2 separate regions of the Homo sapiens genome follow, and region 1 is linked to region 2. Evidence: fine-mapped expression QTL. A gene starts in region 2. The other region holds a variant in brackets. All regions are shown on one strand. Distances are between the middles of the regions. Region 1 overlaps RAVER2 (ribonucleoprotein, PTB binding 2). Region 2 holds the start of JAK1 (Janus kinase 1).

Region 1 (8,393 bases), 130 kb before region 2:
TTTTTGTAAAAGCTGAAACTAAGAGGCATTAAGCTGAGCAGTGCTACACCATCTGATTTACTGTGCTGATCACTGTGACCACTTGTGAGGACATGTGGCCCACTTTCAGGTCAGAATCTCTGGGATGGTGCCTGAAAACCTGCATTTTAATATGCTCGCCAGGCGATTATTGTGGAGACCAAAGCTCTGAGTTTCCCATTGCTCTCTAGAATGTTTCATGTTGTTTTCTTTGATGTCATTTGTCAGTTTCTACACCTATTGATTTATTCTCTCACCACTCCTCTTGTCACCAGGCACACTTAACATCTAATTCAATATGCAGCTTGATGTCTTAGCCACTCCTCCTTCAGAGGAATACTGACATTCGGTGTTGATATTCTGAGTCCGTGGGTTTAACTAGCTGTGATCAGCAGAAGCAGCTGCATGCAGTGCTCTAATTTTTTCTTTTCCCAAAAAGTTGGGGTTGGGAGTGAAGGTGCTGAGACTGGTTTGTGTCTTGCAGAAATTCCAAAGGCGATGTTGATACAGAAATTTAAAAGTCTTATTTAACAAAGGGGTTTGTGTATTTTTTGATAGTTTGGGTATTTATCCTGTTATTCTATATTCACCAAGTCAAAGTGGAATGCTTTTCTTATAAATATCTTTAATGAATAAGCCAACTTTAGATTTTAAAACTAGCTGCAATTTTATTTTCTCATAGGTGTCATCTTTAAGAAATGAAAAGCGAGGCTCATCATATCTCATCTCTGCCCCAGAAGGTGGTTCAGTGGAATGTGTTGACCAGCATTCTCAGGGCACAGGAGCATATTACATGGAAACTTACTTAAAAAAGAAGCGAGTATACTGAGTTAAGCTCTCTCCTAATAACCCCCTAAGGTTCTCTGCAGTATCTCTGCTGTTCATCGCTGCCTTAACTTCATTCAAACTAGCCATATCCTTTAAATACGGGTTTATAGTTTCCCAGAAGGAACTGTGTTGTGCAGCAGGCAGAAATGCCAAATAAAAAATAGCAATAAGAAGAGACATCAATTGAGGACATTTTCCACTAGAGTCAGATGCATCTTAATCAGTGTGCTAACTTACAATCCATTGGAGAAACTAACAATGTTCCAATATTCCTTGATTTAGGACTGGGAATAATTCTGACACCATATATAAAAGAAGTTTGAAGCAATAAATGGGAAACAGTGTTGTTTCCTGAGCCTTAGAAGAATGAGTTTCTTATAAGCCAATGTGCATTTCAATTTACTTTCCCTAGAAGTAATTGCATTTATAGATTTTTAGGACTTTTCCTAGAACTACAAGGGTGCAAGTACCAAATGTGCTGATGGTAATATTATAAAGATGCTCTACATGCACACTCAATTACGCCCACACCAGCCATGCAAAATTAAACCCGGTAAGAGAGTGACAGTGATATCCAAGGTATCCACTACTACCGATGCTTTAAGATGTTGTTTACCATTTATACCTTCTGTGAAAAATAGAAGGTATTTTAAGAAAAGTAACTTTGGTGATCTAATAAAAGGGTTTGGCAAACTACACCCTGGGTCCACATTTGGTCTACCACCCGCTTTTGTGCTGCCTGCAAGCTAAGACTAATGTTTACATTTTTAAATGGTTGGAGGAAAAAAGAAAACTTATGACATGAAATTTATATGAAATTCAGATTTCAGTGTCCATAAATAAACTTTTATTGGGACGTTGCCATGCTCATTCATTTACGTGTTGTCTGTGGCACTCTTACGCTACAAGGGCAGAACTGATTAGCTTCAACAGAGACTGTATGGCCTACAAAGACCATATGGCCTAAAATTTCAAGTATCTGGCCATTTATATATAGTTTGCTGATCCCTGATCTAATAGCACTAATTCTAATAGCAACTATTCCTTTCAATTCACCTAAAGACAGACCTTTAGCCTTTAGACAGACTTGTAAGTGGAAAGGAACATGGGTTTCTGTGCTCATTTCATAGCGTAGACTAGTAATGATCTAATGACTAGAATGGGGCCTATTTTGATCACTAAATGCCCTATTATTTCCACAATATAGTATAGTAAAGCAGTCAATACTGCACTTTCTGATGGAGTCTTAAGGAGTCACAGTATTTATAACCATTTTGAGCTAATAAGCTATACCTCACTCTCTGCTTTCTCTCTCACTCTTTTTGATAGTGTGTTAGGGTGAAAAATCAGTTATTTAACCCAATTTACTTGTGAAAGAAGTTTTATCTTTATGGACTATGATGACTTTTGACATCACCATTTCTTGAAGACCTTGGTATTAAATGCATGAGAAACCTTTTGCCATCTAGAAATTTCTAAGTTTGTTTATGTTATAAGACTGTAATTAATTGATAGGGAATTTGGGATCTCAATCCGGGGCTTTTTGAAATCAGATCATTAAATATCTCGTCACTTTGGGGACTTGTTATTTTTAACTATGATGTGGATATCCTGTTTTAATTATGAAGTCTAGAATTGGTACATATGTTGTATGCTTTGTAAAGAATTTCACTTGGTCTAATTTATTGCATATACTAGCTTCTGTTGGAAAATGACTGACAGCTAGAAAGTTTAAGGTAATTTCTAAGTATACTACCTATAAGTAACTGATAAGAATTAGGCATCATTCAGTGATATAGCAGATGACTAATGGGTTTTTCAGGCCCTGCACTTCTCTTTCCCATTTTCCTGTTGCATTCAGCCTCTTCAATGCTTAGTCACACCTCCACTATAGTACAAACAAACAAACAAACAGAAGAAAGGAAAGATGGTGAATTTTGCAACAGAGCTGCAAAAAGTCAGTCAGTCAAAGCAGGAAGAGGTTGAAGGAACTAAAACAAACAAACAAAGGTGTCTGGACTACAGCACAGTGGACATGCCATCCATACTGGCCTGTGCCCCGTTATCAATCACTGGGCACAACAGTGAAGAAGTGCAAATCAAGTGGTGTTTGTTTGTTTGTTAGTAGTAAGGACCGTAACCCACCCCTTCCTCCCCCCAAAACTATACTGTTATTTTTCTATGTAAGCAAATTGTTTGAAATGCTTTGAAAATGAAATCTTAATATTAAAAGGCATATGCATGTAAAGTCTTTAGTATATTTATTTGTATAAAGAGTAAACAAAGTGCATATAGAGTGGCCACAGGTTTGACACAGAGACCTTGGTGATGTAGGCTATGAACAAATTTAAATGGCAACTTCATTGCTGCCACTGAACCAATCCTGAATTTGGGCTCAACAGGTGAAAAGTAACAATATCAAACGAATACTAAACAGCATAACAAAAAGATTTTCAGACTCTTGGTCATAAAGACCGTAATCGTTCACATTGAATCAATGACTAAACATTTTTGATTACCCAGCTACCTCCAAGCAAACTGAAAACTGTCTAGTGGATCCTGAAGTCCATAGTGCCTCTAGCCGGGTCTTTCAAGTGTTGCACCACAGGGTGATGATTGATGGTAAAAACAGGGATCAACCCTTGTAGATCGGTGGTAAGTATGGAAACCCTCTAAGAACAGTGCAGCGTATGTGGTATTCAGACTGGTTGCATACAGCATTCAAAACCAGTGCTGGAATAGCTTGCCCCAAAGTGGTAGAGTTATAAAAGGATATACATTGACGTTTCTTAAAAGCATGTGTAATAGCATCCAGGTTCTGGGAATGAGTTCTGATTAAAGGTATACTGCTTAGGAAAGCACTGGCACAGGCTTAGTTCTTGA[G/GAATT]AATTAACATGCAGCAAATTATCTATTCCACAGCTATCCCCCCATGTAGAACCAGCTTTCTCAAAAATGGGTGCTAGTGATCACCCAAAGGAACAGGAGCTAAGCCACTGGAGAAACAAAGTTTAAGTCCTACTGGTGAGAGAATACAGTCATTTTTGTACAGAAACAATATATACTACCTGGTATCTAATATTTTAAGAATGCATGGTCTAGTACTGTATAGATACTGAAATTTGAGGGCTAAGTCCATCAATCTTTCTTTATCTATGATTAATGTGCCAGCAAAACATTTCAGATCAGCTGGCAGCAGGGAAAAGCAATCATCTTCAGATATTATTTTGGTCAACTCCTCGTTTTCAAAAATCCCCTTTTGGTAATGCAGTTGTGATGGTGAACTAGCCAGATGAAATGGTGGTATATTCTTTCCACAAGGAGGAGTGCTTAAGTGCTTTCAAATATTTTGGTTGTCATTATGTGTCACTAAGTTACTGGTACCAAATTTAAAGAGGAAGTCCTTACACATATTAAGCACTACAGTGTGCCTTATACATGTATATGTACTGAAGTATGAGTTCAGTGACTTTTTGGACAGAACACAAACTTCTTTCATTAGAAATTTTTAAAAAATGACTTGGGCATTTGTTGCAGGAGAAGGACTTGATAATCTGTGGAATTTAAATGTTATTCATGCTTCTTATTTTAAAAGTGCTTCAAATCCTTCAATAAGGTTCTGAAAGCTTGTCCGATTGGATGGTTGGAATTCCCAGCATTTCCTCATAAGTTGATAAACCTGTAAAAAGAAAGAAGTAACAACAGTAAAAATGTTAGATCTGGGAACTTTAAAAAATAACAGAAATATCAAGAGTAAGAAAATAATTTTGGAAATGCAATGACTTTTCCTTAAAGACTAGAAAAACAAGAGTATTTGAATAGTTTAAAACACAGAAAATGGGATACAACTCTAGTTCATAAATAATATTTTAACATTTGAGAAGCTCAAGGGTTGACTGGCTGCAATAAAATCCAGGTCATTCCTGTAAACCAGTTAGAGGGTGAAGCAGAATCTCAGTTCAGACTTGAACTTTCCAGACTGGCTGCCTCACTCTCTGACTCATACTGTTCAGTGTGTCTTACACAGTCTCAAGAGTTTAGTATTAAAGGCTCAATTCACTTAGAAAACTGAATTATAAATGCTAATAAGTGGGATAAACTTACACACAAAAAATGCAATTATATGTATTTGTCACACTAAGGCTACACCAAAACCTGTCCCTCTGGGGCAAGCAAGTGGATAAAGAGGGGCTGGCTTTTGGAGGGAATCCTTGCTCTGAACCTAACTGGTGGCTATCATCTAGCCCCAAAGGCGATTTCTCAGTTATCTTATGTGAAATTCAGCTTCAGAAAACTATTTTACAAGGACTTCACTGCATCATTTCCTCGCTCTCCCCTCTACCCATTGCTGGACAACTCAAGCTGCGAAAACATAATAGAAATGGAGTGTTATTACTGTGACGTGGCCCATAGATACCTCATCTGGACAGTTAGGTGGGCACGGCAGGCGTTTTCCTTCTTTTAACGTATTCACAAGTCTTGTGACTGTCATCTGGCCATGGGTTGGGCCTATCATTTTCAGGAACAACTATATAAAATAAAATCAAACAAAACGTTTAACTTTGCAAGTATTTACATAAATGCCAAACAGATTAAGGTGAAATTTCTACAATCAACTGGAAATTTAAGTAGCAATAAAAAGGCTTTTCTCCTTAGTAACTTTAAATAAAAATCCAAAATCCTTATTAGCTTTCAATGATCTGTCTCTAACCAGTGTCTTAGACTCTACCAACCACTCCTTGTGCTTGTGCTGGTCAAGGAGTCTGTTCCCAAGAAAATGATCTGATTTAGGAATGAAGGAGGCACAGACAAGGCTGGTCCCTACCCAGTGCTACCCCACTTAACTTGCTCATTTTCCCATAAAACTGCCCTTCATCTCTACACAGATAAGATCCTTGAGAGTCAAGGTCATCCTATAGAACTCCGGGCTCGTTGTGAAAGCAAGACTTTAGAGATTCACAAATAACTGTCAAGTAGCAAACCAAGTTAATGGGAAAGTGACATTTTCCATTATAATACATTCATTGGATTCCATTTAAAAACAAAAGTTAACCAAGCAGAGGGATGGACACATTTTAAATGGGTACTGGATTCAAATGAAGAGAAAAGTAGGACTTACAGCCATGGGACTAGAATCTGAATCACAGTAAGTCAGCAGCTCATGCAGAGTGACTCCAAAAGACCAGACGTCAGAGGCAATATAAAATTTAGATTGCATTAAACATTCTGGAGCATACCTTGAAAGGAAGCAGAACACAAAACTTCATTTCCTGGGAGGCACACTCCATCCGACATTACAGGATAACTGAAAAATCACCTCTTCGGTTTTTCTTATAATTTAATACAGCATCTGACTGTGTATTATATATTTTACACATACCATGTATACGCTGCTATGGTGCACATCTGACCTATAGTACGGTATCCTTTACAGGCTCTCGGTAGCACGTATCTGCCCTAAAATAACACGCCAAGTCTGTGCTCTTCATTTCACTGAGAACATGCTCTCAGGGTATGGGAGGAGGTGGCCGTGTAATGATGAGCCCCAGGTCTGATTTGCCTGCAGGCTCTAAATGAGACAGCAGTGGCCTCACTGCACAATGTGGCATCGCTGTCCAATCCTCTTCCAGCATTGCCTACTTTGCTGAATGACACCCACTTGCCCAAGCCAAAAATGAAGGCATTCCACCGCACCCAATCTCCTTATATACTCCTTGAACCTACTCACTTCTCTCAAACCCTACTGTCACTCTCCCAGTCCCTGTCCTAATTCATGCTGTCACTAGCTCTGGCCTGAGCTGTTGAAGCAGCCAAATCAGACTCCCTGGCTCCAGACTCCCTGGCTCCAGACTCCCTGGCTCCAATCTTGTTCCCTTCATTCAGTGGTGGTCTTTTTAAAACAAAGTCTCCCTCCTTAAACTCTCCAGCAGCATCCCATTGTTCTTGAGATGAAGTCCCAGCTCCATGACTCAAGCTTCCTCCTGCAAACCTCCTATTCCATGATCTGACCTCACTGAGGTTCAGTTCCTGGGAAATCGACTGCTCTTGTCTCATTCTTCCTAGTCACGCATGCTGTCTAGCAACCGTCTGTCTAAACCCGCATGAATCTTTCAGGTTTCTTCTGAATACTCACGACTTCCAGAAAACCAAGCCCGAACCCTTCTGTATGTTTCCTGCTCCATGCCGTTGGCTGCCTAGCCTGTTAAACTCTAAACTCGGCCTACTTGTTCACCATATCTCCAGTACTGGCACAAAGCAGGACCTTGATGCATTTTCTTAAATGAATGAATGAGTAAGTTTAGGCTCCATAAGTGGGAGAGGTCTATGTTTGTGTCCATGTAGGATGCACCTAGGGGAGTGCTGATTGGTTATGTCGTTATGTGGTTACGTGGCAGGGTGCGGTAGAGATGTAAGCAGCCTCTCCCCTGGACAGTGTTCCCGGCTGAGACATGGTTGTAGCCAGTGTGTGGCCTTCTAACCTGGGAACCTCTGGTGATTCATGAGACAGCCAGGTCTCCCGTAGGTTTTGCTCTGCTCTGTCCAGGAGTTCCCTGAATCTGCAATGCCCACTCTGTCCTACAGCCTCCCTCTGCAGGAATGTGTTTAAGAAAGGAACTAGATTCTCTCCACCTGCTCACAGTTTTAAGAACTGCATCAGATGAATGCCCTCTCCTGGAAAGCTAGGAATGTTGAGCTGGTGGTTAGATTTCTTTCATTCCTTGGAAGACGGTGTCATATGAAGCTCAGTCATTTATATAGGCTGCTTTCAATGAAACAGGCTGAAAGGTGTGTTTCTTGAAGATAAATATCAATCAATTCCAAATGTTCTAAACCTTCTCTAACCTTGAGTCAGGCCAGAGGAATGAGACACATTAATATAGCCAGAAAGGGCCTATTAAAACAGTGTAAACTCTATGAAGCATTGATAAAACCTAGTGGTTTGATTCAGTTACCAAAACACAGGGCTGTCCCGGTCATCCTTGACGGTGTAATACTCCTTATCGGTTTCAATTGCTTTGGTTAAACCGAAGTCTCCAATTTTCACTTGGTGTTCACTCTCAACAAGGACATTTCTTGCTGCCAAGTCCCGGTGAACGTATTGCCGAGAACCCAAATAGTCCATCCCCTGAGAGAGAGAAGTAAAAGTCAAGCACATTGCTAAAGTCACTTTAGATTGTATTATCTATCACTTCATCAGAAAAAATAGAAATGTCATTTCATTCACATATCACTGACAATTTTTTTGGTTCTGACTTTTATGCAAGAATATTAAGAACAAACTGATTCAAATAAATACACATTAAAATAACCATATTTAAATCCGTTTACTTTCTTAGTAGAAGCTAACTTTTCATCTAAATAATGCAGAGAAAAACAAACAGTATAATTATCATAAACTTACCCACTTAGAGTCAAATTACAAACCAATTACCCAGGACAGAGTGCCTGATGTCTTAATCTGTAACATGATGTCTTTATTTTTTACCTTACAAATCTGAACGGCATATTTTAGCTGCTGTTTGAGGTTTATTTTGTTCTTATTCTTTGGAAGA
Region 2 (8,413 bases):
CTTCCCACCCTAAAACAAAGGAACTCCTACTCACTCCTGAAGGCCCAACTCAAATGAAGCCTCTTCAAAAAAGCATTTGACAAGGGCTCCACGCAGGAATTAGCTCTCTTCAGGGTCCTGGAGCTCTTAATTCTGACTGCTACTACAGCATCACCCACAATGTGTTACAGCCATGTATACCAAGTTTATTTCCATATAAACTATGTCTTATCCTTCTGCCAGGCACTTAATAGGTACCAAAGAGATGTCTGTGCATACAAAGAATGAATTAATCTGTAACATTAAAAAAAGAAAGATAACAAGGGGAAGCTACTTCCTAGTCCTCAAACTTCAAAGGAGTGCCATGAAGGGTTCTAGGAAACATTCTACAATCACAAAGATTTACTCTTTTACATGCATATAGTCTGCAACTGTAAAACTGAACATGCCCTCAGGGTCTTCCACTAGACTGTAAATTCCACACGAGGACAGATTTGTACCTGTTTTGTTGTCTGTCTATTCACTCTCTGAGATTCACTGCAAGAGCTCAACAAGTATTTGCTAAATGAATAAAAGAATGTATAAAATGCTAGTGTGAATAGTACTGTTAAATAAATTCAGTTACTGCAGATTAAAAATATCCCAACAAACGCCAGCTCTATCTTCTGGCCAGAGTAGACTTAAAAGAAATTATCCTTTTGCTTCTAAAGCAGGTCTTGCCTCGGGACTGGGCAGTTTATCCGCAGAGCACCAAGGAAGAATGTGTGCCCACTGCCAACTACAAAGAATCATGGATCATAAACCCTCAGAAGTGGAGGTATCACGGAAATGAGCTTAATGTTTTATGCTTTCCTGTCGCCTTAAACTGCCAAGAAGGCTGGTGCACCTCAGAGGAAAGAATACTCACAGGAATTAGTTTCCGGTCCCTGAAACCCAGTCATTTCAACATGACAGCTGTTTGAAATCCCATGTAACCAGAGGGTTTCTGAGACAGGAAGCAACAGTGGCACACCTAGCTGAGCACGGGGGAGAGTAAGAAGCAGAGAGGAAACAAGCTGAATGAGAACATGGCTTGGAGGCAGCAAGGAAAGTATAAAAACAATGAACCAGGCCAGGCGCGGTGGCTCACGCCTGTAATCCCAGCACTGTGGGAGGCCAAGGCAGGCGGATCACTTGAGATCAGAAGTTCTAGACCAGCCTGGCCAACATGGTGAAATCCCATCTCTACTAAAAAACAACACAAAAATTACCCAGGCATGGTGGAACGTGCCTGTAATCCCAGCTACTCGGGAGGCTGAGGCACGAGAATCACTTGAACCTGGGAGGCAGAGGTTGCAGTGAGCCTAGACTGTGCCACTGCATTCCAGACTGGGCGACAGAGTGAGACACCATCTCGAAAAATAAAAATAATAATAAAAACAATGAACCGATGTCTCTGATGCCTACTATAATGTAATTTACCTTTACATCGTAATTATTAAAAAAGAAAGAAATGAAGGGCACAGAAACAAGGAACACCTTCCTTGGTCACCAGCTACTCTCTCTCATCATTCTCTGAATCCTAACTGCTCTTATAGAAAAGAAATTGGCAAGGATGTGAGTGTGCTTAAATGGACAAGCGAGTAGAGCATGAATGACTTGTTCCCTCTATTTTCTACTTTCCTATATTTTCTAATTTTTCTATAGTGAATTCTCCTTATTGTTATGATGGGAAAAATAACCTTTGCTTAAAGAAATTATAGAGCTAAAAAGTACATGTTCTGACAATAAGAAAACTAAGTATACTAAAAAAACCTTTACCCCAAAAAATGAATAACAAAGAATTCGATAATATCAAACCATCCACAGGCGGCTTTTTACTCAACATATTGCCTTAACCCTGGTTCCCTCAACTACCGGTAAATCTAATGATTCACTTATGAAAAATACTCTTCATATTAGTTATGATTTGCATAGCACGTCACAGTTTCCATGCATTATTTACCTGACTTCCCCCCAAAACTCTGCGAGATGACCAGGGAGAATATTTTTATCTCCATTTTGCAAATGAAGAAAAGAGGTGCCCTGAAGTGAAAAAATTTGCCACAAGAGCCCAGATCTTCTTGCTCCTTACTCAGTATTCCAAAGCAGGACTTCTTAACCTGGGCACTACTGAGATGGATAATTCTTTGTTTGGGATGGGGGGCTGTCTTGTGCGTTATAGGATGTTTAGTAGCATCCCTAGCCTCTAACCACTAGATGCCTACCAGTAGCACCGCTCCCTTCCCCCAAGTTGTAACAACCAAAAATGTCTCCAGAAACTGCAAATATCTCATTGGGTGCAAAATCATACCCTTACTAGTCTAAAAAAATCTGAAAGTTCCTTCCAACACTCCTGTTCAATGACAAGGTTCCATATACCACTGAGCCACAATAATCACAGAACATCCAATGTTCCTTCTTCAGCGAGATTCCATTAATAAGCCAATTCCCCATCCACTTAAAATAATGGTTTTAAATGTGAAAATGAACAAGAAAAATTTATTTGTATGAATATTCACATCTCAGACAATAAATCTTCTAACAGCATGCTATTATCTTATCAGGACATAAGGACATACAAAATGGGATGTGTCTTTGAGGGGAAAAAAACACCAGAGGAATCTGAGAATTAGAAAACACAGATCATGGTCTTTGCTATGCAGTTATACCTTAGTGTTCTCTTGTTCTCTCTACACAAATGAGTATCAACCTACACGTTCTCAATGCTTGTTTCAGTCGGAAGTATATGGCTTTAGCCAAGCTCATGTTAAGATCCTAAATTACAACAACTGAAATGTAGTTATATTTTAGGAAATGTTTGAATTATTTTACCTATATCTAATTTATGCATTCTCTACAATCATTTCCCAATGGTAGTAAATAATTAGTATAGTATGAAATGGAGGAAACCATTTAAACTGGCTGTATTCAGTGTGGAGTATCACACTGCAATCCTAGCAGTAAAAAAACATAGTTTTGTATCTATTTGCAGAAACTAAGACTCAGTCAAAGCACTTAGTTAATATGATATACAGAATTAAGAAGAGGTTATGATTATTCCTATTTATAATGTCCAAAGTCATTCCAGTATGATGTCTTCACATCTTTAAATGTGATCTGGATCTATACAGGGGAGACATTTTCTCCACATTACAAAGCATATTGTACCAGAAATGTCTGGAACCCTGGTGGTCTCCATTAATCTTCACCACAAAGTACAAAAGAACACATTGATCCTTCAATGAAAATAATCCCCTGGTCTTGGAAAACATCAGAGTCACCAAAAGCAAAATCAAGAAACAACACATAATGGGGTTTTGGAAAGGGAAGAACAAAGATTCAATCAATACGAATTGCTCATCTTAAACAAAATCTACTGTGCCTATACCCATATTTAACTCAAATCTTTTCTTCAAAAAATAAAAAAATAGCCAAAACCAAACACGCCCTGATTTACATCTCTCTCTGCATTATTCTCATCACTTAACTACCCATGTTTTACTCCCTGAAAGAAGTAATGACAATTTTATACCACTGTAAATTCCTGCCAGTGAGAGAAAAACCCTATGACTTGGGGGGAAAAGTGTCAATGACATGTATAGCGATGTACTCAACCAGGGGCAGAAGGCAGCTCACAGCCACGTAGTAAGAAGAGTGGCAGGAAGGACGGGGTCCCCTTCCCCAGGAACACACAGGAAATCATGGAGTGCAAACCCTCCAAAAAACGTGTGCACAAACACCTGGCAAACATCGCATCTTTTATCTAGAAGTTCCGTGGTAAACACACATCCAAGGAGCCCACATCCCAGGGACCCTGGGGAGTGACTTTGGAGGAGTGTCTATTAGTCCTCCGATGCTCCCGGTCGCCGACGATGCGCGGATGGAGTTGGAGTGAGGGAGCCAGAGACCAGCCCCAGTTTCGGTTAATCAGTCCCTTTCCAGTGGGATTCGCAATTCCCCGGGTAGTTCTCTCCCACTGTTCCCCTTCCCTGGTCCTCTCGCCCAGGGTCTCCTTTCCCACTTCTCGCTGGCTACCTGAGGCCTGGTTCCTAACAGAACCTAAGAGGGGAGGGGGCGTTTCCCGAGTTCGCGGACGCCCAACACCCAGCTCCAAATCCCAGAAACTTTCCCTCGCTGAGACCGCAAGGAAGGAAAAAAGCTAAGACCCTCAGCCTCCTTCCTGGGGCCGAAGAAGAAAACCTTTCTGCGCTGCCACCCCGGCCGGGAGCTGGCGGTCAAGTTCGCGGTACAAGGAGCTAGGGACGTCAGCCCTCCAGCCCGCGCCTGTATCTCGGGGTGGTATAAACAGGATGTCAGACAGCGCGCTCCGGGCTTGTTTATGAAAACTTGCCGTGCGCGCTGGGGGAGGGGGCGGCCTGGCTTAACCGCTCTTCTCCCGGCCGGGGGCCCCCGCCCGGCGACCTCCTCGCCGCCCGCCGGCTCCGCGGGGCTGGAAATCCCCGCCTTCCCCGCCCGAGCCGCGGGGTCCTGAGCTGCGCTCAGGAGCAGCCCGGGCCGCGCAGCCTAAGGACCGACCAAGAGCGGTGGCCGCGCCTCCGGCCAGTCCGGGCTGCGCGCCCCTCGCCTGCCGACCGCGGCCGCCCCGGCTCCTCCACCTCCCCCGGTGACACTCACCACTTCCGTGTGCGCCTGGGCCAGGCAGCGCCCCGTCGCTGCGCTGGCTGGGGTCGACCGGCAGGCTCGCTAGGCGGCCAGCCCCGCGGGGCCCCAGCGTGCGCGCGCCCAGGGCTGAGGAGGGGTCGCGGCGAGGACAGCCGGGACTGGGCGCAGGCCCGCACTGTCTGCAGCTCCAGGATACTCCGCGGCCGCCGCGGCCTGCGCTCAGCGACGCACCGCCTCCCGTCCCGCCCCGCCCCGCCCCGCGGCCGGCCCCACCCCCGTGGCCGCCGGGCCCACCCCCTCGCGACGTCACCAGCGGCAGCCCCGGAAAGCGGGGCGGGGTCGCGGTCCCGGCGGAGACTCTGCGCCTCCGGCCTACCCGCCCCGCCCCCATCCGGCTTCGCTCGCGAAGCTGCCCCCACTCGTCTCTGTTCACCGCGTCCTCTAGATTCTAGAATCTAGAAACTCATCTAGGACGCGAGGTCATCTATCGCGGGGAGTAAAATTGCCAGGATTCGCCCGTAGATTGACCCCTCCCAGCTCTGGAGCCCCCTCCGCCACACCTTTGTGCGCTCGATGCAGAAATGCATCCCGCCTCCTCCGTATACGCTCCGCTTCTTACCCCAGCTCAGTAGGAGAGGAGCTAGTGGAGCACTAGACTAAAAAGAATTTAACAATACAGCCCCCAGCTTGGACAAGCTACTGCAGATCCAACCCATTCCGTATTTTAAAAGCTCTTTACGAAAAAAAAAAAAGCATATGCATAATAGGAATTAGAACTACATTCACTGATACCTAATGCATGTACAGCGCTTTTCATTTTTTACTAATAACCTCTCAAAGTAGTAGCATCATCTTATCCATGAGGAACAAATTAAGTCTTTAGTGTCTTAATCAAGGTCACACTGTAGCCAAGATTCATACTTCGTAGGCAGTCCACGGACAAATCCTAACAATTTTATTTCCTTAGGTATCTCTCCAATCAGTTCACTTGTCTATGTTCCGGCAACACGGTCCGAGCTGCCACCATCTCTCACCTGAAGGGACCACGAACATCTCTTAAATCGTCACTCCATTCACTCCAGCCCCCAATTAATTCTCTACAATGAACTTTTAAAAATTCAAATCTGTTCCACACACTCCCATGCTTAAAACACTCCAGCGACTTCCCCCTGACAATCCCTGGATGAAAATCCTCCGAGGCCGTGCACGGTCAGAATTCTGCAGCTTCAGGGCTGTGGACAGAGGCTGCCCCACCTGTGCTGACTTCACTAACCCTGCTGGACAGTTCCTGATCACTTGAGTTACTGCAACTGAAACTGAGCAAGATATTCTGGGTGTGGAATAAAGTCAAGCATCCGAATTAGACTACTGAATTTGAGGTTTGGCCTCCACCAGTAACCACCTGTGTTGCCCTAAACAATTCTTAGTTGACTCAATTCTCAGTGGAGCAGCAGACAAAAGGATCTCCAAAGTGCCTTCCAGAAGTACAGAAAAGAGGACCAAAGAAGACCGGAGATCAGAGCAGACAGGGAGGCAACCCGGGTTGCCTGCATTGTGGGTGTTTGTGTGCAAGTCTTGTCTCATCTGCCACACTCTGAACAACACCTCAGGGCTGTTTGCATCATTTTCTTCACCTGTTAAATAGGGATAATGCCTTCCTTAAAGGGGTTTTGCTGAAGGTGAACTATGATAATATAGCCCACATGGCATGGGCTCAGGAAGTGGTAGGGGTTTTTATTGAGCTGGACCATAAAGAACAGGTGAGACTGACATGAAGGGAGACAGAGACGTGAAAGAACAGCATTTCAGGTGAGGATGTAAAGAAAAAGGAAAGTCAGGAAGGCAGCAGTGAACCCATTGTGCCCACGAACGAATCTGGCTGTTCACAGGGTGGAATCAGGGGGAGAGGGCCTGGATTCAGTTTAGATCTGTTCGTCTATAACAGACATTGTGCTAGGTGATGAAGATTCAGAGAAAAAAAAAATAGACTAGGTTCCTGACCTCTGAATGCTCAATGCAGTCAGAGAGACAGGCAAGTAACAATTCAGTGATTCCCGGTCCTGTAATGGTGATCACAGAAGACAGTCACCCAGCCGAGTCTGAGGAAGTCAGAATAAGCTTCAAGTAGCCGACAGGAGGCAGGAGTCAGGAGGTAGCGGCATATTCAGGCAGTAATAGTATATGCTGGCTGGGTGTGGCGGCTCATGCCTGTAATCTCAGCACTTTGGGAGGCTGAGGCAGGAGGACTGCTTGAGGCCAGGAGTTTGACACCAACTTGGGCAACACAGCAAGACCCTGTCTCTAAAATAAAAACAAACAAACAAACAAAGGCCAGGTGCAGTGGCTCACGCCTGTAATCCCAGCACTTTGGGAGGCCGAGGTGGGCCAATCACTTGAGGTCAGGAGTTTGAGACCAGCCTGGCCAACATGGCGAAACCCCATCTCTACTAAAAATACAAAAATTAGCTGGACGTGGTGGCGGGAACCTGTAATCTCAGCTACTTGGGAGACTGAGGCACAAGAATCGCTTGAAGCCGGGAGGCAGAGTTTGCAGTGAGCTGAGATTGTGCCACTGCACTCCAGCCTGGGCGACAGAGCGAGACTCCCTCTCAAAAAAAAAAAAAAAAAAAAAAAGGTAAACTAGCTGGGCATGGTGGCACATGCCTGTATTTCCGACTACTTGGGAGGCTGATGCTGGAGGATCACTTGAGCCCAGGAGTTTGAGGCTGCAGTGAGCTAGGATCACACCACTGCACTTTAGCCTGGGCAACAGAGTGAGACCCCTTCTCTTAAAAAAAAAAAATAAGTATATGCTGTGTGACTGGGGAATGAGAAAAGTTGAATCCCATGCAAAAACTTTTGCCTAAAATAAAATAGTGGGTTTTTTTTTTTGAGAGATTTAAGGTTTTTGTTTTAGAAGAATCACCCTAGGGCAAGGGCTCTCAACCTCAGCACTATTGACATTGTGGGCTGGAAAATTCTTGTTGTAGTGGGGGTGTCCTGTGCATTGTAGGATGTTTAGCAGCATCTCTGACCTCTGACTACTAGGTGCTAGTAGCAAGTCCTCTTGTTCCCCCATCACACCCCCCCGCAACTCCCCACCCTCCTCCTTTCCCAGCTGTGACTTCCAAAAATGTCTTCAGACGTTGCCAAATGTCCCCTGGGGTGCAAAATCACACCCCACTGAGAACCACTAGTCTAGGGATAATGTGGAAGATGAATTGGAGGGCAAGGAGATTAATTACATGTCATTGTAAAACTGCAAGCTGCGAGAGATGACAGCCTATCTAAGGCAGTGGACTGGGGAAGGATACTGAGGAAGATGCAAAAGGCCTGAGGAGATAGAATGGACAGTGCTTGGTGACTGATTAGATGTGGCTACTGAGGCAGAGAGAGGAATCTCGCATGACTCCCAAATTTTCTGAATTGGTTAATAAGCTGACCAAGGATGCCACCGACTGGATGCCACCGACTAAACAGGATAAGAAATTCAGTTTTATGTTTGAGAAGAGGAAAGTTTTAAACAGTCACTGAGCCAGGCGTGGTGGCTTAGACCTGTAATCCCAGCATTTTGGGAGTTCAGGAGTTCAAAATGGGTTCAGGAGTTCAAAATGAGACCAGCTTGCGCAACATGGCAAAACCCTGTATCTACAAAAAATACAAAAAATAACTGAGTGTGGTGGCACATGCCTGTGGTCCCAGCTACTCAGGAGTCGAGGTGGAAGGATCACTTGAGCCCAGGAGATCAAGGCTGCAGTGAGCTAGTATGGTGCCACTGCACTGAAGCCTG

The links. PIP is the estimated chance that this variant, and not a neighbour inherited with it, causes the effect.
Region 1: its variant is fine-mapped to the expression of JAK1 in transverse colon (GTEx, PIP above 0.99). The same link has a PIP of 0.9 or more in subcutaneous fat and whole blood.

What each region holds. Positions count from the first base shown.
Region 1 is chr1:64,830,139-64,838,531 of GRCh38, forward strand. RAVER2 (ribonucleoprotein, PTB binding 2) reads left to right here. Exons shown (of 12, transcript NM_001366165.2): 12 at 701-3,094. The coding sequence ends at 847. JAK1 (Janus kinase 1) reads right to left here. Exons shown (of 25, transcript NM_002227.4): 21 at 8,327-8,393; 22 at 7,794-7,966; 23 at 5,960-6,077; 24 at 5,258-5,368; 25 at 3,091-4,519. The coding sequence ends at 4,424. Among named protein-coding and RNA genes, the nearest start is that of RAVER2, 89 kb to the left of the region's middle. The variant G/GAATT (reference allele first, on the strand shown) is at 3,730.
Region 2 is chr1:64,961,698-64,970,110 of GRCh38, forward strand. JAK1 (Janus kinase 1) reads right to left here and starts at 4,852. Exons shown (of 25, transcript NM_002227.4): 1 at 4,636-4,852. RefSeq lists an enhancer at 751-850 and a silencer at 4,197-5,076.